7 linked regions of the Homo sapiens genome follow. The protein of the gene in region 6 purifies or fractionates together with the protein of the main gene of each other region. This does not show direct contact. Each region holds a gene or a part of one and is shown on either strand. Other genes may lie near its edges. The genes, in order: MAP1S, UTP15, ARHGEF1, DDX11, EIF2A, KLHL34 and BAG1.

Region 1 (2,767 bases), on a different chromosome or scaffold from region 6:
AAAAATAGAAAATCAGCACATACCTGTAGCTAGCAAGGAGAATGAATCAGTAACTTACGACCTCCCAACAAAGAAAAGCCCTGGGGAAGCCACTAAACATTTAGAGAACTAACATCAGCCTTTCTCAAACTTTTCCGAGGAACTGAAGAGGAAGGAACACTTCCTAACTCATTTTATAAGACCAGAATTGTCTTAATACCAAAGCCAGGCACAGATATTTAATTCTACAAGAAAATGCCAGTTCAACAGACTTTATGAACAATAATGTAAAAAATCAGGCCTGGGGGTGCAGTGGCTCACGCCTGTAATCCCAGCACTTTGGGAGGCTGAGGCAGGCAGATCACTTGAGGTCAGGAGTTCAAGACCAGCCTAGCCAACATGGCGAAACCCTGTCTCTTACTAAAAATACAAAAATTAGCTGGGCGTGGTGGCAGGTGCCTGTAATCCCAGCTACTCGGGAGGCAGAGGCAGGAGAACTGCTTGAACCCAGGAAGTGGAGGTTGCAGTGAGCTGAGATTGTGCCACTGCACTCCAGCCTGGGCGACAGAGTGAGACTCCATCTCAAAAAATAATAATAAACGAATTCAGCAAAGAAGCAAGGTACAAAGTCCACAGGCAAAACACAGTTGAATTTCTATACATGAACAATGAACAATGTGAAAAGGAGATTAAACAATCATGAAATAGAAGAATCAAGATAGAGGACTCACACTTCCAGATTTCAAAACTTACTACAAAGCTACAGTAATCAAAACAGCGTGGCACTGGCATAAAGACAGACATATAGACCAATGGAATACAATAGAGGCCCGGAAATAAATCATCACATGTATGCTGAAATGATCTTCAACAAGCGTTCCAAACATTCAATGGGGAAAGGATAGTCTTTTCAACAAATGGTGCTGGGAAAGCTGGGCTTCCACATGCAAGAGAATGACACTGGATCTTTTCACCACATACAAAAATTACCTCCAAATGGACCTAAATGTGAAATGGAAAACTTAAAACTCCTGGAAGAAAACATGGGGTAGAAGCTTCTCACTGTTGGATTTGACCAGGCATGGTGACTCACATCTATAATCTTAGTACTCTGGGAGGCCGAGGCGGGCAGATCACTTGAGGTCAGGAGTTTGAAACCAGCCTGGCCAACGTGGTGAAACCCCGTGTCTACTAAAAACACAAAAAAAATTAGCCAGGTGTGGTGGTGGGTGCCTGTAATCGCAGCTACTCAGGAAGGCTGAGGCAGGAGAATCGCTTGAACCCGGGAGGCGGAGGTTGCAGTGAGCCAAGATAGTGCTCCCATGCTGCAGCCTGGGCAACAGAGCCAGACTCATCTGAAAAAAAAAAAAAAGAAAAAGAAAAAAGAAAAAAAATCGATGTGGCAATCATTTATTGGGTCTGACATCAAAAGTGCAGACAACAAAAGAAAAAAATAGACAAAATGGACTTCATGAGAATTTAAAACTTTTGTGCATCAAAGGGCACTATCAAAAGAATAAAAAGGCAGCTCACAGAATGGGAGGAAATATTTGCAAGCCATTTATCTGCTAAAGGATTAATGTCCAGAATGATTTAAAAAACTCCTAAAACTCAGCAACGGAAAACAACTCAATTTAAAAATGGGCAAAGGGGGCTAGGTATGGTGGCTCATGCCTGTAATCCCAACAGTTTGGGAGGCCAAGGCGAGAGAATCGCTTGAGGCTGGGAGTTCAAGATCAGCCTGGGCAACATAGTGAGACTCCATCTCTACAAAACATTAAACAATTGGCCAGGCACGATGGCATGCACCTGTGTAGTCCCAGCTACTTGGGAGGCTGAGCTGGGAGGATCACTTGAGCCCAGGAAGTTGAGGCTATAATGAGCTGTGTTTGCACTACACTCCAGCATGGGTAACAGACCGAGACCCTGTCTCTAAAAAGTAAAACAAAATTTTAAAATGAGCAAAGGAATTGAATAGACATTTCTCCAAAGAAGACAGACAAATGGCCAATAGGCATATGAAAAGATGCAACATCACTAATCATTAGGGACATGGAAATCAAAACCACAATGAGATCCCACCTCACACCCATTAGACTGGCTAGCGTCAAGCAGCTGCTGTGGAAAACAGTCTGGCGGTTCATCCAAAATTAAACGTTGAGTCGGGCGTGGTGGCTTATGCCTATAATCCCAGCACTTTGGGAGGCCGAGGCCAAAGGATCACTTGAGTTCAGGAGTTCAAGACCAGCCAGGGCAACATAGTGAGACCCCAGTGCTACTGAAAAATTTTAAAATTAGCTGGGCGTAGGCTGGGCACAGTGGCTCACGTCTGTAATCCCAGTACTTTGGGAGGCCGAGGCGGGCAGATCACGAGGCCAGGAGTTCGAGACCGGCCTGACCAGCATGGTGAAACCCCATCTCTACTAAAAATACAAAAATTAGCTGGGCATGGTTGCGCATGCCTGTAATCTCAGCTACTTGGGAGGCTGAGGTAGGAGAATCGCTTGACCCCGGGAGGTAGAGGTTGCAGTGAGCTCAGATCGCACCACTGCACTCCAGCCTGGTGACAGAGCAAGACTCCATCTCAAAAAAAAATTAGCTGGCCGTTATGGTGCGTGTCTGTGGTCCCACCTGTTCGGGAGGTTGAGGTGGGAGGGTTGCTTGAACCCAGGAGGTCGAGGCTGCAGTGAGCCATGTTTGCGCCACTGCACTCCAGCCTGGATGACAGAGTGAGACTCTGTCTCAGAAAAAAAACAAAGAACAGCACAGCAGGCCAGAGACCCTCCTC
Region 2 (3,500 bases), on a different chromosome or scaffold from region 6:
TAAATGTATAACTGAAAGAGTCCATTTTAAGAAAATTATAATAAAATCATTTTTTAAAAGAAATTCTATATAGCAGTGGAAGTGAATAATGTAGATCTGCAGCAAAATATCAAGCAAAAAAGTCTAATATGGAAAGACAGAAAAAGGGATGGAAGGGGAGACTGAAATCTTGACTGGGGAACAGGAGTTGGAACCCAACTCACAGTTCCCACCTCTCCACTCCTATGTGGCACCTCACAAGAGGGATCACAGTTGAAATCACTGATCTAGTCCAACCCTCTCATTTTCAAGGTCTAGAGACCTTAAGGGATTGCCCGAGGTCACAATTAGCTAGTGACACACAGTGGAGATCAGCACACAGCTTTCTATTCTCCCTGTTCAACATGATATTTTTTCCATTTGTCAGAATAACAGCAAGAAAAGTAGACACATCTGACATTATCAACTTTTTTCTTTTTTTAATTAAAGATGGAGTCTTAGAGTCTTGCTATGTTGCCCAGGCTGGTCTCAAACTCCTGGACTCAAGCTATCCGCCTGCCTCAGCCTCCCAAAGTGCTAGGATTACAGGCGTGAGCAACCACATCCCGCCTCAACTTATTTTTAAATCAAATAGGTACTGGGGAAAAGAATATAAAACAGAGTAATTTCTAGCCAGATTTTAGAATTAAGAAAAAAAAAAAAAGGAGGTACACACAGCAATATATATGTTGTCAAGTATACATACTACCTATACATTCTTCTAATATGAACACATTTTTACTTTATTTACAAATGAAAAAAGCCAATTTACTTCTTCCACTGTAATTATGAAAATGCAATATGTGCAAAATGAGAAAAACATCTCAGTCCCAACTTGTTGAAAAATGTACCAAGGCCCCTTTTGAGGCCACATTATCTCCTTTCTCTAGTACTAGCAGCTATTTGCTGGGTAGTGGCATTTCAATCAAGAGAGTCACAGAAAAAGAGACAAGCCTACTAGATCTCAAATAACTGATTTTCAAAAGCTGCTGCAGATCTCTTAGGTAGGAGTAAAAGGAGTATGAGCTAAATTTCTGGGGTTAAATAAGATGGCACAGGGCTAAATACATAAGAGCTAAATTTCTGGGGTTAAATAAGATGGCACAGGGCTAAATTTCTGGGGTTAAATAAGATGGCACAGGGCTAAATAAATAAGATGGCACAGGGCTAAATACACAGAGCTCTCGAGTTCTGTGATTTCAGATCTGCCACTTACCACTTTGCCTTGAAAAATAAGTTAAAACTTTTATTTCATTGCTGTAAAGTAGGGAAAAAGCTAACTACCTTGTAGCATCATCTAGGGCATTAGAGTTCATATGTAACAGCACAGTGCCTGGCTCACATTAGGTACACAATAAATGATAACTGCTTGCCAGTCCTACCTATCAACTGTTTGAACAAAGACTTAGATATGCAATTCAAATGCACACTGATAAATTACAAAGAGCAACTGATTTTAAACAAACGTGATTCAAAACCAACAATATTGGTGAAAGCTATTTTTAAGAAGTACCTGCTGACACCAGAAGACCTCCAGAGGGGAAAAGTAGGACACTCTCCACTGGCTGCCCATGCTCAACGGAGAGAACACTCTCACTCGTTCGTGCATCAAACATCTTCACAGTATGATCATATGATCCTAAAATGTCAATTTTTGAATTTTTAGTTTGACTGTTTAAAACAACAAAAACTGTGTGTATCCAGATATAAATTTTAAAAGGAAAAAAAGCTTAGATGGAGTTTTAAAAAGACATATATGTATATTCATGAAGACACAGGACCTCCAAACCATCTACTACTGATCGTGTCTGAAGAAGCACTACATAATACTATACAGAATCTAACTTGCTCTGATCTTAAAATATTTCTTTCTTTGGACTACTGTCACTACTGAATCATCTGGAAATCTTTGTAAAGGCACCCACAAAGGCTAAACTGCACTCTTTGTTTCTTGGCTGCTTGAGGCAGGGTACTATACATTACAGTTCTGAGAGTCTATTATGTTTTCAAGACAGCCTGATTTTTCCAAACACATTTGGAAGACATGAACAATCAACAAAAGAAGAATAAGAAAATAAAAAACAATTGGAAGCCAGGCATGGTGGCTCACACTTGTAATCCCAGTCCTCCGGGAGGAAATTGAGGTAGGTGGATCACTTGAGCCCAGGAGTTCGAGACCAGCCTGGGCAACATGGCAAAACCGTCTCTACAAAAAAATACACAAAGTAGCTGGACGTGGTGGTGGGCACCTGTAGTCCCAGCTACTTGGGAGGCTTATGTGGGAGGATCACTTGAGCCCAGGAGGTAGCAGATGCAGTGAGCTATGGTCACATCACTGCACTCCAGCCTGGGCAACAGAGTGAGACCCTGTCTGAAAATAAATGCAAACATACATACATAAAAATTAATTTAAAAACTGAAGAATTAATCAGAAACATATTCCTTTATAAAAAAAATTTAAACCCCTCCATCCCAAAAGAGTCCCATAGCAACATTAAAGTACATCCCCGTGAGATTATTTGCTTCAGGAGGGAATAGAGTTCACCAACCTGTTATAAAGAGATCCGGATTAAGTTTGCTAGCACATCCACACCTCACATAATCAGAGTGTTCTTTAAATGTCAAAATTTCTTTGGAGTTTGGAATATCCCATAATTTAACTGTATAATCATCAGCCCCAGAGACCACGTGATATTTGTCAGCTGTAAAATCTACTGTATGAACTGCTCTGAAAGATTGAAGGTCAGTATATTAAAAAGCAAGAAAATTATTTTTCTGATACCTTCTAACATAAAATGCTCCTTTTTCTCAGATTAAAAAAAAAGCAGCTGAGTTTCAGGGAGTCTTCATAGGGGGAAATCATGAAAGAAAGAGAAAACTTACAAGTGTTTGCCCCCAAACCAATTAAGAAGTGTAAATACTCCTATATTGTAAAGTTAAAAAAAATTAAAGGATAGCCTTAAAATTATATTTTCTAGTATATAAACAATTCCACTTAGCTGCTGAATATGGAAGCAAAGGCACTTTAATTTTTAAAATTTCAAAAAGTTCTTTAAAAAACTCTAAAGAGATTTACCACTAAATAGAATCATGTTACATAAATTTCTGTTAAATTTTAACAAATTTCAGCACGGACATTGGCAATCCTGAAAACAAAGTTATAATATAAAATTGTGATGGCCACTTAATTTATTAAGGGGCAAAACACTATAAATTCAAGAAGAAAATCCACCTTCCTACTTGACTTCAACATAAGAGCCTCTAAGACAGTACAGGCCTATAGAGCTGTCATTACCAGCTGTAAGGTTGTCTTCAGGTCAGTAATTCATAATCTCAGCTGGGCCACAGACCCCACTAAAGTTAACCAAAAGCTACAGAGTAGCTCCCTAGATAAACGTGTATTTCCTAAAATATCACATACAATTCTAGGGAATTCATAAGCCCCATGAAACTGGACCACGGAACCCAAGTTAAGCACTCTT
Region 3 (3,500 bases), on a different chromosome or scaffold from region 6:
TTTTGTATGTTTAGTAGAGATGGGGTTTCACCATGTTGGCCAGGCTAGTCTCGAACTCCTGACCTCAAGTGATCTGCCCACCTCGGCTTCCCAAAGTGCTGGGATCACAGGCATGAGCCACTGTGCCTGGCCTAGTGCATTTCAAGTGCTCACCAGCCATAGGTGGCCGATGGTCCCCATGGTGAGCAGTACAAATAAAGCACATTTCCATCTTCCAGAAAGTCCTAATGGGTAGCACATGGCTCATGTTTTTTTTTTTTTTTATCATGTCCTTAGAAGGATCTGTGACCCAAAAAGTACTCAACTACTCCCCTAAAATTTTTGAATAAGTATCTTTTTCACTATGAAGTAATCTGTAAATAAGCTTTCAGTCAAGTCCCAAACCTTTCTCTTGGGCTAGGCACAGTGGCTCACGCCTGTAATCCCAGCACTTTGGGAGGCTGAGGCGGGCGTTCGAGACCAGCCTGACCAACATGGAGAAACCCCGTCTCTACTAAAAATACAAAATTAGCCGGGCGTGGTGGCACATGCCTGTAATCCCAGCTACTCAGGAGGCTGAGGCAGGAGAATCACTTGAACCTGGGAGGCGTAGGTTGTGGTGAGCCGAGATTGTGCCATTGCACTCCAGCCTGGGCAACAAGAGCAAAACTCTGTCTTAAAAAAAAAAAAAAAAAAAAAGCTTTCTCTTTTTGCCACCAGCCTCCCTAGCCACCACACAATTAGCAAAGGAAAAAAGGAAAAAGACAAAAATGATACACTCATCATCTCTCCACGCAGAAGCAAGCACTGCTAATATACTGATCATTCTCCCAAACTTTCCCCTGTGGGGATCTTTTCTCCCCTAAGCAATTAAGATCAAACTAGTAACAACAATCTCATTAAAATGCTCTTCCTTGACTGGGCCTGGTGGCTCACACTTGTAATCCCAAGACTTTGGGAGGCTGAGGTAGGAGGATCACTTGAGCCCAAGGGTTCGAGACCAGCCTGGCCAACATGGCGAAACCCCATCTCTACAAAGAATACAAAAATTAGCCAGGCATGGTGGTACATGCCTGTTCAGCTACTCGGGAGGCTGAGGTGGGAGGATCAGTTGAGCCTGGGAGGGTAAGGCTGCAGTGAGCCGTGATTGTGCCACTGCACTCCAGCCTGAGAGACCAACTGAGACTCTGCCTCAAATAAAAATTTAAAAAAATAAATAAAATAAAATGCTCTTCCTCTGTGCCCAGCACTATGCTAAACATTTCACACAAATCATCTCATCTTCATGACAATATCTGAGGTAGGAACTATTAATGCCCACATTTCACAAGCAAGGAAATAAAAGCTTGCACCAGAAATGCAGTGTTCTCAACATCAGCACTGTATTGCACTACTAGAAATGTTTGGAAATGTCCCTTCCACAGTGGCATTCACATTCCATCAAAATGCTCTGTGTTGAAACAATCTGAACTTGGAACAAGAGGGAATTTGAAGCTGCCTTCAAGTTCTCCCGATGGTAAATGACACCAAGATGAACATCTCTCTGCGCCTGTCTTTGCCTTTGCCAGAGCTGGACTGTGTCCTTGGCCACAGTGGGGTGATGGGGGCAGTACTCACCGCTGATGACCTCCTGCCGCTTCACCTGGCTCTTGGGCAGGCTGTGCAGGGTGTCTGGGGGGACGAGTTCCCGCCAGCCGGGAGGCTCTTCTGGTTCAAGCTCCAGTCCCGACCGCCCCGGCTCCCCCTCATCTCCAGGCTCGGGGCTGTGGACAGAGGCCTTGTTAGGGCCCCAGCTTGGGCCATCCCAAGAAGCAGCCTTCAGCCTCTTAGAGCGTTCAACCCCGGTCAGTGGCCTTGGCATTCGATGCCCGCAGGGTGGCCCGTGCAGCAGACCAGGTCTCTAGATCGGACCACACTAGAGTTCCCAGATCTCTAGAAGCATTCTACCCCCTCCTCCTCCAAGGTCTGTGACCACAGTTGGCCTCAATGACCTCGGTCTCCAACGCCCATTCCTCTGTGACTCTGACAACAATCCCTCCCTGATTCTCCAGGCTGCCTTAGTGGATGGGGGAAGGGAGAGGGTTGACATACGTGGCTCGTCGGGCAGGGCCAAGCACTGCCGTGGCGGAACTGGGGTCCATGTCCACGTCGCTCCGGGAGCGGCCCCCACCCCGGCCCTTAGCCCCGAGGCTGCCCCGGGAAGGCCGGCGGCGGTCACTCACCCGCAGGCTCTCTGAGCGCCCCAGACGCCCTGATAGCCTGGACCCCGAGGCCAAGGACAGAGTCAGGCAGATGCCGGGGACAGAGACAAGGAGAGACCAAGACAAGAACAGAGACGAAGAGAAACCAGGACAGGGACAGAGACGGGGAGAGACCAGGGCAGGGACAGAGGTGGGGAGAGGCCAGGGCAGGGACAGAAATTGGGGAGAGACGAGGACAGGGACAGAGACGGGGAGAGACCAGGACAGGGACAGAGACAGGGAGAGACCAGGACCGGGGCAAGGGTGACCAGGACAGGGATCAAACATGCAACAGAAGAGAGGAGAGAGTCAGAGGAGTGGTGGGATTTTAGGGGCACTGGGGTAGTGGGGGGTCTTGGGGGAGGGGGGATACTGAAATTTGATGGGGGAAGGGATGGGGAACCCAGGATGGAGCATAGGACTGACCCCCTCCCTTCCCTGAGGCAGGGGGATGGCAACAGAGGGGGTGTTATGGGGTGGGGAGGATTTCCATACTTAGCTCTTCAACTGGGAGGGTGATGTCCCCACCCACCCCTCACAGGGAGTGAAGGGGAGGGAGTGGCCATGGGGAGAGGGGAGGGGCTGGGAGAAATGGGGGAGGGGCTAGCCCTTCCCCCACCCAGGGCCCAGGCACCCACCTCTTCCACCTTCTGGGGAGAGAGGGGCACAGGGTCAGAGGTGGGCCCAGATGGAACCTGACCCACCTCCCCGCACCCACCAAAGGGTCCCCAAAGCAGCGGCACAAGGACGGGCAGGAGGCAGAGCCTGCCCCCCAGCTGTAAGGGGGACAGGGCCCCCAGGGCACAGAGCAGAGGGGTGGGGGGTTGAGGGACGGGCACCAGGAGGCAGGAGCGAGGCGGGGGGTGGGGGGCAGGGGGCAGGGGGGCTTGAAAGAGAAGGGGAGGAAGGGCTGAAAAAATGAAAAGTGGCAGGGAGATCGGAGGGGGATGGAAGGTGGGGAAAGAAAACCCAGGTGAGAGAGGAGTGGGGAGGAAAGAGAGGAGGGGGAAGGTGAGAGAGGAGGGGGGAGGTGAGAGAGGAAGAGGGAGGTGAGAGAAGAGAGGGGAGGTGAGAGAGGAGCGGGGAGGTGAGAGGAGGGGGTAGGTGAGAGAGGAGGGGGGAGGTGAGAGAGGATGGGGGAGGTGAGAGAGGAGAGGGGAGGTGAGAGAGGAGGGGGAAATAAAGGAGATGGAAGGAGTGGTGGAGAGGAAGGGAGGAGGAGAAGGATTAGTGAAAAAAGGAAGGAGAGGAAGGAGCAGAGGAAAAAGGAAGGATAAAAGG
Region 4 (3,500 bases), on a different chromosome or scaffold from region 6:
CTTTGAACAGAAGAAGCGTGAAGAAGAGGCACGACTCCTTGAAACTGGAACTGGCCCCTTACATGATGAGAAAGATGAATCCCTGTGTCTGTCTTCTTCCTGCGAAGGGGCTGCAGGCACCCCGAGGCCTGCTGGAGAACCGGCCTGGGTTACTCAGTTTGTGCAGAAGAAAGAAGAGAGGGACCTGGTGGACCGACTAAAGGTGAGACCTGGGGTATCCGGAAGTGGGAGTACTGGAGGAAACAGGGCTTCAGCGATTGTTCTGGGGCGATTCCGAGACTCAGGCAGTGCATGCTCCCCTGCCGTTGCCGTGCCTCTCAGCTCTTCCCTCAGCTCCTTGGGTCTATGGTGCTGCCGCTGTGCTGTCTTTTTTGAGCTGGAGGTCAGCAGGCCTTCTCCACATAAGGAACTGTTGGTGCCCATTTATTACTCACCTGGGAAAGGACCTGATCATTGCCATTGGCAGCATGGTTCAATGGCTGCAAATGGATCTGATGGAGAGCGTGTGGCTTTGGGAGGAGTGTGCCGCCTTCCGCAGTGAGCAGCGAGGCTGGGACCGGCAGGGATGAGGTCCCGGGAGGGGATGCGGCAGCCCTTGAGTGCTGGCCGGGGAAGGAGAGATGCCCCCAGTGAGGAGGCGCCGGGCTGAGTGGCCCAGACTCCTTAGGAGAGGCCTGGTTTTGGGCTTCCTTGGTGATTTTCCTTCATGTCTGCCTCCTGTAGGCGGAGCAGGCCAGGAGGAAGCAGCGAGAAGAACGCCTGCAGCAGCTGCAGCACAGGGTGCAGCTCAAGTATGCAGCCAAGCGCCTGGTGAGCCTCATTTCTTGGGGGGCAGGATTATGTCCAGGCAGGGTTGCTCTGCTTGGAGGCTCATGGGTGCGTGGTCAGGGCCTTGGTCTCCCCTCCGTGACCCTCACTGGCTATGTGCTCCCGTACAGAAGCTGGGCTGTGAGTGGTTGAGGCGTGGATCCTAGGAGTCGACCTCTCTCCAGCCAGGCAGCCAGGCCTATGTGAATGGGGCGTGGTGTGCTTTGTCTCTGGCATGTGGGGAGGTGGGTACTGGTGCTGAGACTTCTTCCTCCCTCACCACCTCCACTACCCCTGTCCAGAGGCAGGAAGAAGAAGAAAGAGAGAATCTCCTCCGCCTCAGCAGGGAGATGCTAGAGACAGGCCCGGAGGCTGAGCGGCTGGAGCAGCTGGAGTCTGGGGAGGAGGAGCTGGTCCTCGCCGAATACGAGAGTGATGAGGAGAAAAAGGTGGCGAGCAGGTGAGACAGAGGCGGTAGCACTACCCTGCCCCAGGCCAGGGGACACCCTTGAAGACAGCTCTTTCCCTCATGCCACAGATGCCATGAAGCACCTGGCAAGAGGCATGGTGGCCTCTGCCCTCTGCTCTAAGCCGGGTCCTTCCTAGGGTCCATGAGTGCCAGTGGCAGTGAGGACAGTCACCGGCCTGGCCTGTGTCCTCTCAGCTGTCCTCACGGCAGCTCAGGCAGGGCAGGAACATTTGTGTCTGCGCCTTATACACAAGGAGGCTGCAGCCCCACAAGGAGAGACTCCTTGGCTGAGGCCACAAGCCTCGGCAGTGGAGAGCTGGGCTAGAACTCAGCTGGCCTGGCTCTAGATCTCAGGCTCTGAGGCAGCTGACTGCACTGGGTAACCTGTGAGGTGCCAACCATCAAGGCGTCCTTAGCCTGAGCTTTCCTTCTCCCATAAAGCCTCTGTTGGTCCAGACTCAAGGTTTCCACTTGATGAGCCATGAGCTGCTGGGTGACTTAGCCCTGAGCAGGCCACCCAGGCCATTTCGGGCCCACAGGATCCCTGGTCACAGCCCTGTTCCCATTCACACTGGAACCTCACCACCATCCCTGAGTGTCTGCTCTGAGTATGGCACTGTCCAGATGCTGTGGACATAGAAGGGAAGAAGACATGGAGGGGACAGTTAATAGACATGAAAACAAATAGCACCTATGTGAAGTCAGCATGTTTGCCTACAAGGAAAACAAAATGGTGATGTGGATGGGGTGGGGGGCTGCACCTGATGATGAGTCCCGTGTGTCCTGTGACATCCTGGCCACCACATCTGTCGGAGGGTAACTGCAAGACCAGAGACCCTCCATGGATATTCCTGAAGGTTCATCCCCGGCCTTCACAGTCTGTCTGCAGGGCGCCTTCTGATGCCACCTCCAGCCGCCATCCACCAGACGCCAGCTTCCCCGCTGCCCTGAACTTCCTCCAGCGCACCAGGCCTTCCTCTGTCCTGTCTGAGGATTTGCTCATGCAACGTGCTGTGGCCAAACACCCTGCCCTCCTCCCTTGGCAGATGTCTTCCTCTCCTTTAAGGCCTGGCTCAGGTGTCGTCTTGGTGGCTTCGGGTGTCAGCTGCTCTGTTTTGCTCATGCACCTGCTTGTGCTTCTGTTGTTGCCTCCTCTCCCTGGCTGGGCTCGAGCTGCTTCAGGGCAGGAACCACGTCTTTATAGTTTGATGTTCCCAGAGCTGACCCAGTGTTTGGCATAGGGGTGTGCTCAATAAAATCGAGTTGACATGAATGAGCAGATGCTGCCTCGTTGCAGTCTGGTAGTGTAATTCCAGGCTGCGCATGTGAACTTCGACTTCTGCCCCTGCCCAGGGCAGAGACCACCGTGTTGCTTTATGCCTCGCTGGTGAGAGGGGGTCATAAACAGTTTGTGCTCCATGAACCCTTCCTGCCCGCCTCCGAGGTCATGTTTCTGCTCCCTCTCTTCTCCCTTAGAGCCCGTGGGGACAAGGCAGAGAACTTGAGTGGAGATGGAGGTGGTGAATATTAAAGGAACAAAGTGCTCCTTCAGGTCTGGGCAAGAGCCATGGATCCTGTAGGTCAGCTTCTGGGGCTTCCCATGCCCTCACGTTTCAGGAGATAACGTGAGCCTCGGAGGACCTGAGTTCTGAATAGAAAATTTTTGCTCTTCATTTCTTCACACACCCAGCCTCTCAGTGAGCTCCTGCTGGCTTTGTCCAGCATGCGACATAAGATTGAATCCAAGCCTTTTAAGATAGAGCCGCCTGCTCTTTAGTGACCATGAAGCCAAGCCTGTAATAATTACTCTTCTGATAGCCCAAGACAATTGTATTCTGTTTTGTTAGAAAGGAATTTCGAGGTGAACAAAAATGTTTTCTTTTTATGTGATGTTGCCATAGGTAGCGTGTGCCTGTCAGATGGTTTTGTGTTTTCTGAGGAGCATAGACTAGTAGAGCTAGCTCAGCTTCAGGCCATGGGATGCAGGGCTGGCTTCCCTGCCAACGCCTGGCGCTGATGGATTCTTCCCGCATTGCTGGGAAGGGCAGACTGAGGCACTGACACAAGAAGAGTTGTAGCTGGTCATAAGTGACAGCATCCTCTGTTCACTCGATTGGTCAGTTGTAGCTTCATCCAGGAGATGGTCATGGGGTTCCTGCTGCATACCAAGCTCTAGGTGAGGCCACGGGGACTCAGCAGAAACAAGGCCGACCTGGGTCCTCCC
Region 5 (3,500 bases), on a different chromosome or scaffold from region 6:
AAATTCTGTAACTTAATGTGATAAACAGATGCATGATAATGATGATCACAACCACAGTAACAATGGCTGATATTAAGAGCTTACTCTATTCCAGGCAGTCTGAGCCATGCTATTATTAATAAAACTGCCACTCTAGTTAATTAGATCAAGAGCTAATATACTTTCTTTGTTCAATTTCAGAGATCAATGGCTTTTCAAAAGCAGCACACCAAACTGTCAAAGTGGTGATCCCTCTTCATTTGACATGCTCACAAAGAGGAGAATAAGACAAGAAAGCAAGCTAACCCAGAAACAGTGAGGTGACAGTGCGCCTCAAACACAGGAAAATAAAATGCATAACTATACTGATTGGATGCTGCTCAAAATCAGCCTACATGCCATCTTTGGTACGTGTGAACAAAGTTACCAATTCCTATTCTAACTATGATATACTCAAAACTGTACAATCAGTAATGGGATGCTCTAAAGACAAAAGAACTGCAAACCCTTTTTAAAAAATTATTTTCAGTAACAGTGTTACTTTTTGGTATTAAGATTGTAAGAATACCTTGTGGATAATGTGGAACAAACCAAATGAATACTTATGTGAATGTGATATTCTCAAATTATCATCCCTGGTATTCCAGAGTAACAAGATTCTTGGTGGTGACAGAAGGCAATACAAATAAGATAGAAGTTAAATAAAAACCTTGTAGTCTTCAATTTAAATAAAACTATACGTATAAAACTTTAATTTAAATAAAATTATGATTGTTACATCTTTTAAATAGAAAAAAAAGGCCTAGAAACAATGATCAATGCAACAGCAAATAAGAATCTCTAGAACCTAAATACCTTTTTTTTTGCTAGACTCAGCCAATTTTTCAAGAAACCCTATTACCTTTTAATGTTTCCTTCAATGAGATCAAGAGCTAATACTTTTTCTTTGTTCAATTTCAGAGATCAATAGCTATTCAAAAGTAGCACACCAAAAAGGCGACAGGGTTTCCTGAAAAATTAGCCAGTTCTAGGTGTAATGGTTAGAAATGTACAAATTAATCCTAGAATGACTTGTCTTACCATATAGCAAAGAAGTCACTAAGGATTAATTGATCAAAGATGAGACAATTTGAGCATCAATAAGAAAAATAACTACAATGGACTGAAACACATACCTTTTAAATCCACAGCTCATTAAGAATGGGACTAAAAAGGCCAGGCGTGGTGGCTCACGCCTGTAATGCCAGCACTTTGGGAGGGTGAGGCAGGTGGATCACCTGAGGTCGGGAGCTCGAGACCAGCCTGACCAACATGGCGAAACCCCATCTCTACTAAAAATACAAAATTGGCCGGGCATGTTGGCACATGCCTGTAATCTCAGCTACTCAGGAGGCTGAGGCAGGAGAATCGCTTGAACCTGGGAGGCAGAGGTTGCGGTAAGCCGAGATCGCACCATTGCACTCCAGCCCGGGCAACAACAGCGAAACTCCATCTCAAAAAAAAAAAAAAAAAAAAAAAAGAATGGAACTAAAAAACAGCCTGGGCAACATAATGAGATCCTGTCTCTACAAATAATCAAAAATTAGCCGGGCATGGTGGTGCAAGCCTGTAGTCCCAGCTACTTGGGAGGCTGAGGCAGGAGAATTGCTTGAGCCCAGGAAGTCGAGATTGCAGTGAGCCATGATTGCACTCAGCTTGGACAAAAGAATGAGGCCCACTCTCGAAAAACAAGAATGGGGAAAAAGCTAATTGGTTACAATGAAGGTTGCTAGAGGTGGAATACATTATATTAAAACTGATAAGAGCAAGAATATTTATCCCGCCTTTTCTATATAAATGCAGCACTAGGTAACCAAATAGTAGAAGGGGAAATTTTTCTTTATAGAAGCAGTACAGCTGAAAAATAAGTGAGGGAGAAAAAACCAGAGTATCAACAATTTGCAACCACTGATGAAATAATGCATCCAGGCATGAAACATTAATGTCAGCTAAGCCTACAAAATTAAAGACAACCAGACATTATGTGCTTCTTGATAAAAGAAGTGAACATCACCTTATAATGTAGTCTTACCCTTACTCACCTAAAAAAGAACCTGAAGCTGAAACTCTAGAGCCAACTTGCAATTTATAGGGGACAGATGAACATGTTAAATTATACCATGGGATACAAAAGCAAAATTCAAACTATGGGAAAACGTGAAAGACAAATAACCTTGTTTCTTAAACAATAAATTATGAAGAATAAAATAACAGATAGAGTGGGAACTTATAGGACCAAAAGAAACATAAAAGATATATCAATCAACCACAATGTGCAGTACCTTATTTGGATCCCGAGTTTTAAAAAAAATTGTAACATTTGCAATTAGTAGAAATTTGAACACATATTTAATAATTTGTGATAATGGTTTTGTGGCTAAGTTTAAAAAATGAAAGGCCCCAATCTTCAGAAATCTACTCTGAAATATTTACAATTACATATTTAACAAGTATATAAAAGTATAACCATATCTGGGATTTGCTTTCACTTAGTAAGAGATGGTAGCTGGAGAGATGTATGGATGAGATAAGATTGGCCACAAGCTGATGGTTACTAGAACTAGGTGTCTGAAGTTTAAAATTCTACACGATAAAATATCTAAAAAATTTGTGTCACAGAATTTCAATAGCAATTAAATTCAGGAAAAGATATTCAAATGTCTTAATAGCAATTACCAGATAATAAAAAGTTATTGTAAAAGAAAACCTTTGTGTTACAGATTTTCACTGAATTCAGACTTATAAAGAATTATGCAAATGTATGTAAGAGTAATTATTGATTAATAGATTAACAGTATTTAGGAAAACCCTATGATGTCATAAAAGTTAATGGAAACTGTATACGATTACAGTAAGTAATAAAATTATGTCATAAATCTTTCCATACTAAAATTGTTGTTTTCAAAGAAGTGAACTTCATTGTTAACATTGCGGGCACAAAGAGTTTCATCTTCTGACCAGGATGGACACCTATGTCAATGAAAAAAAAAAAAAGTATAAAAAATATTCAGACAGAATGTAACATCACATTAACATGTTAAAGTAATTTATGATATTGGTTACCATTTAAGGAAAAACACTTATAAACACTTATAAATATGATATTAAGTCAGTTACTAATAGTTTTAGTCAATATATGTTAATAGAAAAGGCCAGGTGCGGTGGCTCACACCTGCAATCCCAGCACTTTGGGAGGCCAAGGCAGGTGGATCACCTGAGGTCAGGAGTTCAAGACCAGCCTGGCCAACATGGTGAAACCCCATCTCTACTAAAAATACAAAAATTAGCCAGGCATGGTGGCACGTGCCTGTAGTCCCAGCTACTTGGGAGGCTGAGGCAGGTGAAATTGCTTGAACCTAGAAGGCAGAGGTTGCCGTGAGCCAAGATCAGGCCATTGCACTCCAGCCTGGGTGACAGAGCGAGACTCCCTCTCAAACAAACAAAAAAAAGAAAACATTGTTCCTTTCCACTTAATACTAAAG
Region 6 (4,023 bases):
TCTCCAAATTGGCAAAAAATAAATAAATAAATAAATAAATAAATAAATAAATAAATAAATAAAATAAATAGAAAGAAAGAAAAAGACCAGTTATATTAATCATTTAGTTATTTAAGAACAGGATGGAGATGGAGAGATGCTTTCCTAAAGTCTCAAGATCAGGCTGGTTTTAGTCATTTCCATGCTGGGGCGTTTCTTGTAAAAAATAACTTTATGAGGAAGGGCCCTACGAAATTCCAGCTTTACCGAGCTTGCAACCGTACGGCTCATTATCCCGGGATAACATCGAGGATGTAGCAGCCAGTAATTAGATCAGAGCGTGGAAAATCGGGGAGAGAAATTGGAAGGAATGACTTTTTTTTTTTTTCCCCAAAGGAAGTGTACAATGAGTGGCAGAAAATCCAAGTCAACCACAGTTTCCTTGTTCATGCTGCAAAGGGATGGGTCGGGGCAGGGTCCAAGAATAGGAAGGGAAAACTCAGGTGAGGTCTGGGAACGGGCGTGGGAACAAAGGTGAAACGAGCCAGCCTGGGAGACGCGAGCTGCCTCAGGAAGGGCTCAGAGTAGGCCCAGAATCTCTCAAGGGTGAGTCCAGGTGAGGGACACGTTACCTAGCGCCGCTGGCGGGGAGCTTGGGATTCGCCCGGGCGTGGTTCCCGCCAGTGCCTCTTCAGCGCGCAGCGGCCTACTGGGTGTCAGCGCGCAAAGTCGCAGCTTAATCCTCGCTCCCGCTGGATTAATTAGGGCCTCTTCAAAGCAGAAAGTTGAGCCAGGGCTTCTTTCCCAGACACAGGGACACCGGGAGGTCTACACTCCTCCTGCCCAGCCGGACGCCCCTCCGCCGACACTACCGGGTCGAGGGGCTCCGGCGACTCGTGCCTCTCCAGTGAACTCCGGCTCCCGCAACCCCAACCGGGTTCCTGGGACCCTCTGGTGACACTGGTGGCCAGTAGGGTCACTGGAGTCAAGCCCTTGGCCCGGGCCGCTTCACCCGCGCCCGTGCCCTCGGTTCGCGGCCAGCAGTCAGGGCACGGGGCGGGGCGCGCCCGGGAGGCCGAGGCGGCGCGCTATTCCTGTCGCTGTGAGCTACCGGCATGTTATGTGCGGCGCCCAATCACGCCTCTGACCCGCCGCTCTGACCTGCGCCCTCCCCTCCCTAATCCCCTAGGCTTTGAGTTGATCCTCCGCGCGGAACAAGCTCACCCCCCCACTGCCCCGTGACCAGTTGTCCCCGGCCTTCGCGGGTGCCCGCAGAACCCGTCCTCCTCGTCCACCCCGGAGAGGTCAGAGTCCTCGCCCTGCACTCCCGGGACGCCGCATCTGCGCCGTCGGACATCCAGCACCCCCGGAGTCCACCGGCAACTCGGTTCTTCCAGGTGATGGTGTGCAGCCACCGCCGCCCCTGGCGTGCAGGTGTGGGCTCTCCACATTGGGCCGGGGAGGGGACTTCGGGCAACGCGCTGGAAGCCTCGGCAGTCGTGGAAACCAAGCCCCACACTCCCGGGAAGCCTCCAAATTCCGCGCCCTCCGTTACTAGGGGCCTCCGAAAACCGTTTCCAGACTGGATTTGCTCTGAGAGGGGCACTGGGCGATCTGCAGGTCTGGATGAAGGAGCCCTGGGCTTTAAACTGAGCAGGCAGAAATGGGCCCCTGCTAGGGGCTCTGTGGCTTACGCGGGGGTCCCGGGAGTGTTGTGCCCCGGGATGCCTCCGGCCCTGCCCAGCAGGCCTCTGGTCCCACCAGGCTGCTTCCAGCCCTGGGTAGAATGAGTTACTTCCTGTCTTACTGCAAAGCTCATGGCGGCGCGCTGCTCACCGGCTACCAGGCCCTGCGCGCCGAGGGCTTCCTGTGCGACGTGACACTGGAGACCGAGGGCAGCGAATTCCCGGCGCACAGGTCGCTCCTGGCGTGCTCCAGTGACTACTTCAGGGCCCTGTTCAAGAGCCACACCCAGGAATCCCGGGCGCGCGTGATCCACCTGCACGTGCCATCGGCAGCCGGCCTGCAGCGCCTGCTGGACTTCATCTACACTGCCTGGCTGTCGCTTTCCATGGACACTGTAGAGGACACTCTGGAGGCCGCCAGCTACCTGCAGGTCACTGAGGCCCTGGGGCTCTGTGGGCGCTACTTGGAGCGCCAGCTGGCTCCAGAGAACTGCTGCTTCGCCGCCAACGTGGCAGCGCGCTTTGGCCTGGCTCACACGCTGGACGCGGCCGAGCGCTGCATCGTGAGCCACTTGCAGGAGCTGCTGGCGCGGGGCGCGGGCCCCGCGGGACTCCTGGAGCTCAACCCTACATCGCTGAGGGCTGTACTGGGTGCCCCCGACGTGGCGCGGGTGCCCGAGGCCCGGCTACTGGGCCTGGCGTTAGCTTGGTTGCGGCAGGAGCCCACAACTGAGCGCCTGGCACACTGTACAGAGTTGCTGGAGCGTGTCCGCTTTGGCCTGGTTCCCGCCGACGTACTGCGGCGCGTGTACTCGGGCTCTGGCCTCGTGCTGCCCGCCCGGGTCAAGGGCCTCATCATCCAGGCCCTCAACTACCACACGACGCCCTCCCGCCAGCCGCTCATGCAGGGCGAGCAGACCAGCATCCGGAGCCCCCAGACCCGCATCTTGTTGGTGGGGGGGCGCAGGGCACGGGAGGTGGTGATTGAGGAGGTCGCGGCCCCGCAGAGGGCAGCTAGGGGCCAGGTCGCCGCCCCAGAGCCCGAGGAAGAAGAGGAAGAGTTGGAGGAAGAGGAGGAGGAGGAGGAGTGGGAGCTCACCCAGAACGTGGTGGCCTTCGATGTGTACAATCACCGCTGGCGCAGCCTTACGCAGCTACCCACACCACTGCTGGGGCACAGCGTGTGCACCGCGGGCAACTTCCTGTTTGTCCTGGGTGGGGAGAGCCCTTCCGGCAGTGCATCCTCTCCCCTGGCCGACGACTCGCGGGTGGTCACGGCCCAAGTGCACCGTTACGACCCGCGCTTCCACGCTTGGACGGAAGTGCCCGCCATGCGGGAAGCGCGGGCCCACTTCTGGTGCGGCGCGGTGGGCGAGAGGCTCCTGGCCGTCGGGGGCCTGGGTGCGGGCGGTGAGGTGCTGGCCTCGGTGGAGATGTACGACCTGCGTCGGGACCGCTGGACGGCGGCTGGGGCACTACCGCGGGCTCTGCACGGTCACGCGGGGGCCGTCGGGGACCGCGGTGTTGTGTACATCTCGGGGGGCAAGGCAGGGAGAGGCGAGGGCGGAGCGAGCAGCCTCCGGGACTTATACGTCCTGGGCCCTGAGGAGCAGGTTTGGAGCAAGAAGGCACCCATGGGCACCGCACGTTTCGGGCACCACATGGCAGTGCTGCGCGGCGCTGTGTTTGCTTTTCTGGGGCGATACGAGCCCTTCTCTGAGATCGAGCGCTACGACCCCGGCGCCGACCAGTGGACTCGGTTGCGGCCGCTGCCCTACGACCGCTTCTGCTATGGGCTGGCCGTGGTCGAGGAGACAGCGTTGCTGCTGGGCGGCCTCAAGTGGCGGGACTCGCGCCAGGTGCCTACCCGCAACGTAGTGGGCTACGACCTCGACCTGGACCGTTGGGAGGACATCGGCTGCGCGTTGCCCTGGGCCTGGAGCGGCCTGCGGTGCGCAGTGCTGCAGCTGGCCGAGGGTGGGGACGACGAGAGGGAGGGAGAGGTTGGAGAGGCGCTAGATTTGGTGCTGGGCTGAATGGGTCAGTCCGGTTTCCTTCCGCAATGGAGGAGAAAGTCGCGCTTGGTTAGTCTTACAGAGCAACGGATGGGCTTTTTCTAAGAAAGGGATTCTGGGAGCAGAGTGGCTTCTGAAGGTTAACAGGCAAACAAGGCCTTGAGCAAAGAGAAACATTTCTCCTTGAGCTGAGAATGGGAGACAGCGGGGCGGGGGGTCAAATAGAAGGCTATATGAATCAACTTCAGTGAGCTGGTGAAAGAAAATTTTTAGAAAGGCTCACGCAAGGCTAGAGAAGGACTTTCACAAATAAAATATGACCTTATTTTCCCTCTTACAGTTAA
Region 7 (2,738 bases), on a different chromosome or scaffold from region 6:
CCTTCTCACGGGAGAAGAAGGGGTGCTCTCTCCCCTTCTCACGGGAGAAGAAGGGGTGCTCTCTCCCCTTCTCACGGGAGAAGAAGGGGTGCTCTCTCCCCTTCTCACGGGAGAAGAAGGGGTGCTCTCTCCCCTTCTCACGGGAGAAGAAGGGGTGCTCTCTCCCCTTCTCACGGGAGAAGAAGGGGTGCTCTCTCCCCTTCTCACGGGAGAAGAAGGGGTGCTCTCTCCCCTTCTCACGGGAGAAGAAGGGGTGCTCTCTCCCCTTCTCACGGGAGAAGAGTTTCACAGGCAGAAACCCCTTGGGTGAGCAGATCTGCGTGGGTGGGGCCTGTGCAATCACCTATCACATCTGCCCAGCAGTCCATGCATTAGGGCCTCTTTTCTCAACCCTTAAGACAATAAAGGCTGTTAAGGCTGTAAATTCCAATGCTGACGGAGATTCTGAGGCCAAATGCAGCTATAGAAGTTTCACTATTGATGTGTGCATTCAACATTCATTTGTTCTCCAAATATTTATTGAGGTCTTACTATATACAAGACTATATAACAAGTTATGCTTGTTATATATGTTATATATGTTATGTTATATATATATATGTTATATATGTAATATAACTATATTACAAGTTATGCTTGAAATAATGCTGTTACCAAGATAAAGAAGCTCCTTCACCCAAGGAACCCTGGTGTTAAAGGCAAAGATTAACCAAATAATCCCACAAGTAAACTATCATGGACTATGTAAATGCTGTGAAAGAAATGTATGGGAAGTCGAGAGAGGATCCCACCTGGGGGCTGGACAGGGTCTCAACACAGTAGGTGAGGGTTCTCCATGCAAGAGACATGTGAGTTGAATTCTGAAGGATGAACAAAAGTCACCTATACAAGGGTAGGGTTGGAGGAAGGAAGGTGAGGAGCTGTTCAAGCAGAGGTAGTAGCAGGAGCAAAGACCCCCAGGCAGGAGAGGGTGCAGTGCATCTGAGGACCTGAAAGAAGAGTGGCTGACAGCAGACAGCCAACAAATGAGGGGGTTGAGATGAGATGGGAGAAGGCATGGGGTAAAGACTTTTGCCTAAAGAGAAAGTGAGCCATTGGAGGGTTCTAAGCAGGGGACTGACATGGCAAGATTTGCACTTCATGATCACTCGGGCTGCTCTAAAGAAAATGAACTAGAGCAGAGAGGAAGTGGGAGCTAGAGGGAGAGGCAGAGGACAAGAGGAAAAAAATCAGAGAATGGGCCTGTGCAACCCTGTGTTGGTTGAGAGGCAGTACAGTAGAGGGGAAAAGCACTGGCTCTGAAACCAAACCACCCAGCTTTGTGTCTTGGCTTTGCCGCTTACTCTACAACCTTGCGCTAATGACCTAAGTTCTCTTGGTTTCCTCATCTCTAAAATAAGGATATCTGTCTACCTCTCAAGTTATGTAAGAATTAAATGACTAATATATATGAATAGTTTAGAATGGTGTTCGGCAGTTTGGTGCACAGTAACTTCTCATTAAATGTTGTGGCCCACGCCACACAGCTATCACACAAAAATAGATCAATAGTGAACCACTCTGATTAAAGTTGGGGTGCGGTGGGCTGGGACCCGAGCCTTGTCCACAAGTCTACCTCTACTACCTTGTCTGAGGTCTTAACCTGCCCAGTCCTGAATTCCTGGGACTTCAACGACTCTCTCTCTGCCAAATGATGTGAGTCTTTAGGTAGAGTTATAGCGCAAAGGGCTACTATCAATGTTATTAAGCATAAATTATGACTAGAGCCACAGAATGATTTCCTCATTAATCCAAAAAAAAAAAAAAAAGCAAACCACTCTTCTACTTTATGATGAGCACATAAACAGTTTTTTTTTCTTTTTATTTATCTACTTTTACTTACTTAAATTTTAGAGATGGGGTCTTGCTATGTTGCCCAGACTAGACTCAAACTCCTGGGCTCAAGTGATCCTCTAGCCTCAGCCTCCCAAGTAGCTGGGACTACAGGAAGGAGCTACTGCACCTGACTCAATTTTTTTTTTTTCTGAGATGGAGTCTCACTCTGTGACCCAGGCTGGAGTGCAGGGGCGTAATCTCGGCTCACAGCAACCTCTACCTCCCAGGTTCAAATGATTCTTGTGCCTCAGCCTCCCCAGTAGCTGGGATTATAGGCACATGCCACTACGCCAAGCTAATTTTTTTTTTTTTTTTTTTTAAAGCAGAATGGGGTTTTGCTATGTTGCCTGGGCTGGTCTCAAACTCCTGGCCTCAAGTGATCCGCCCGCCTCAGCCTCCCAAAGTGCTGGGATTATAGGCATGAGCTGCTGCGCCAGGCCTTAATTTTTTAAAAACAATGATGGGGTGGGGGTGGGGGACAGTCCACAAAATGGATAGAACAGCTGTGAAGGAAACATAGAACTCAGAAGGATATGGTTAACAAAAATGCCTTTGAAGGAAGCACATGTCACTCCTGAGAAGTTTATGGTTGGCTTCACCACCTGCCTGCTTTACTCATTCTGGTGCCTTCTCTTTGCCCTTCCTAATCCATGGCTCTGGCCTGGTTTCAAGCACAGACTCAGTCAACACTGGGTTCTAACCTTCTGAAGACTTGCTTGGGGACAAGGAAGCCTTGCATCAACCACAGGCTCCATCCAAGGAACGGCCCCCTGGTATCTCATGGCCTGTGGCTAGTCAGGGTCACTGGGAGGTGAGGACAAAGTCTAGAACCCAACAACCCAGCCAGATGCTCTGGAATTAGG

The links.
Region 1: the proteins of KLHL34 (region 6) and MAP1S purify together in Homo sapiens (affinity purification with mass spectrometry; one large-scale study listed by BioGRID and IntAct). This does not show direct contact.
Region 2: the proteins of KLHL34 (region 6) and UTP15 purify together in Homo sapiens (affinity purification with mass spectrometry; one large-scale study listed by BioGRID and IntAct). This does not show direct contact.
Region 3: the proteins of KLHL34 (region 6) and ARHGEF1 purify together in Homo sapiens (affinity purification with mass spectrometry; one large-scale study listed by BioGRID and IntAct). This does not show direct contact.
Region 4: the proteins of KLHL34 (region 6) and DDX11 purify together in Homo sapiens (affinity purification with mass spectrometry; one large-scale study listed by BioGRID and IntAct). This does not show direct contact.
Region 5: the proteins of KLHL34 (region 6) and EIF2A purify together in Homo sapiens (affinity purification with mass spectrometry; one large-scale study listed by BioGRID and IntAct). This does not show direct contact.
Region 7: the proteins of KLHL34 (region 6) and BAG1 purify together in Homo sapiens (affinity purification with mass spectrometry; 2 studies listed by BioGRID and IntAct, with this or other methods). This does not show direct contact.

What each region holds. Positions count from the first base shown.
Region 1 is NC_000019.10:17,729,480-17,732,246, reverse strand, and holds part of MAP1S (microtubule-associated protein 1S), read right to left. Parts: intron 1-2,767. UniProt on the Homo sapiens protein: Microtubule-associated protein that mediates aggregation of mitochondria resulting in cell death and genomic destruction (MAGD). Plays a role in anchoring the microtubule organizing center to the centrosomes. Binds to DNA. Plays a role in apoptosis.
Region 2 is NC_000005.10:73,568,743-73,572,242, reverse strand, and holds part of UTP15 (U3 small nucleolar RNA-associated protein 15 homolog), read right to left. Parts: intron 2,747-3,500; coding exon 2,568-2,746; intron 1,658-2,567; coding exon 1,532-1,657; intron 1-1,531. UniProt on the Homo sapiens protein: Ribosome biogenesis factor. Involved in nucleolar processing of pre-18S ribosomal RNA. Required for optimal pre-ribosomal RNA transcription by RNA polymerase I.
Region 3 is NC_000019.10:41,896,684-41,900,183, reverse strand, and holds part of ARHGEF1 (rho guanine nucleotide exchange factor 1), read right to left. Parts: intron 2,870-3,500; coding exon of another isoform or gene 2,858-2,869; intron 2,239-2,857; coding exon of another isoform or gene 2,071-2,238; intron 1,743-2,070; coding exon 1,597-1,742; intron 1-1,596. UniProt on the Homo sapiens protein: Seems to play a role in the regulation of RhoA GTPase by guanine nucleotide-binding alpha-12 (GNA12) and alpha-13 (GNA13) subunits. Acts as a GTPase-activating protein (GAP) for GNA12 and GNA13, and as guanine nucleotide exchange factor (GEF) for RhoA GTPase.
Region 4 is NC_000012.12:31,083,860-31,087,359, forward strand, and holds part of DDX11 (ATP-dependent DNA helicase DDX11), read left to right. Parts: coding exon 1-202; intron 203-723; coding exon 724-810; intron 811-1,109; coding exon 1,110-1,267; intron 1,268-1,273; exon of another isoform or gene 1,274-2,353; intron 2,354-2,366; exon of another isoform or gene 2,367-3,452; intron 3,453-3,500. UniProt on the Homo sapiens protein: DNA-dependent ATPase and ATP-dependent DNA helicase that participates in various functions in genomic stability, including DNA replication, DNA repair and heterochromatin organization as well as in ribosomal RNA synthesis.
Region 5 is NC_000003.12:150,563,787-150,567,286, reverse strand, and holds part of EIF2A (eukaryotic translation initiation factor 2A), read right to left. Parts: intron 2,989-3,500; coding exon 2,906-2,988; exon of another isoform or gene 181-2,905; intron 1-180. UniProt on the Homo sapiens protein: Functions in the early steps of protein synthesis of a small number of specific mRNAs. Acts by directing the binding of methionyl-tRNAi to 40S ribosomal subunits.
Region 6 is NC_000023.11:21,655,531-21,659,553, reverse strand, and holds the start of KLHL34 (kelch-like protein 34), read left to right. Parts: upstream 1-1,223; 5' UTR 1,224-1,765; coding exon 1,766-3,700; 3' UTR 3,701-4,023.
Region 7 is NC_000009.12:33,251,971-33,254,708, forward strand, and holds the end of BAG1 (BAG family molecular chaperone regulator 1), read right to left. Parts: 3' UTR 501-2,738; downstream 1-500. UniProt on the Homo sapiens protein: Co-chaperone for HSP70 and HSC70 chaperone proteins. Acts as a nucleotide-exchange factor (NEF) promoting the release of ADP from the HSP70 and HSC70 proteins thereby triggering client/substrate protein release.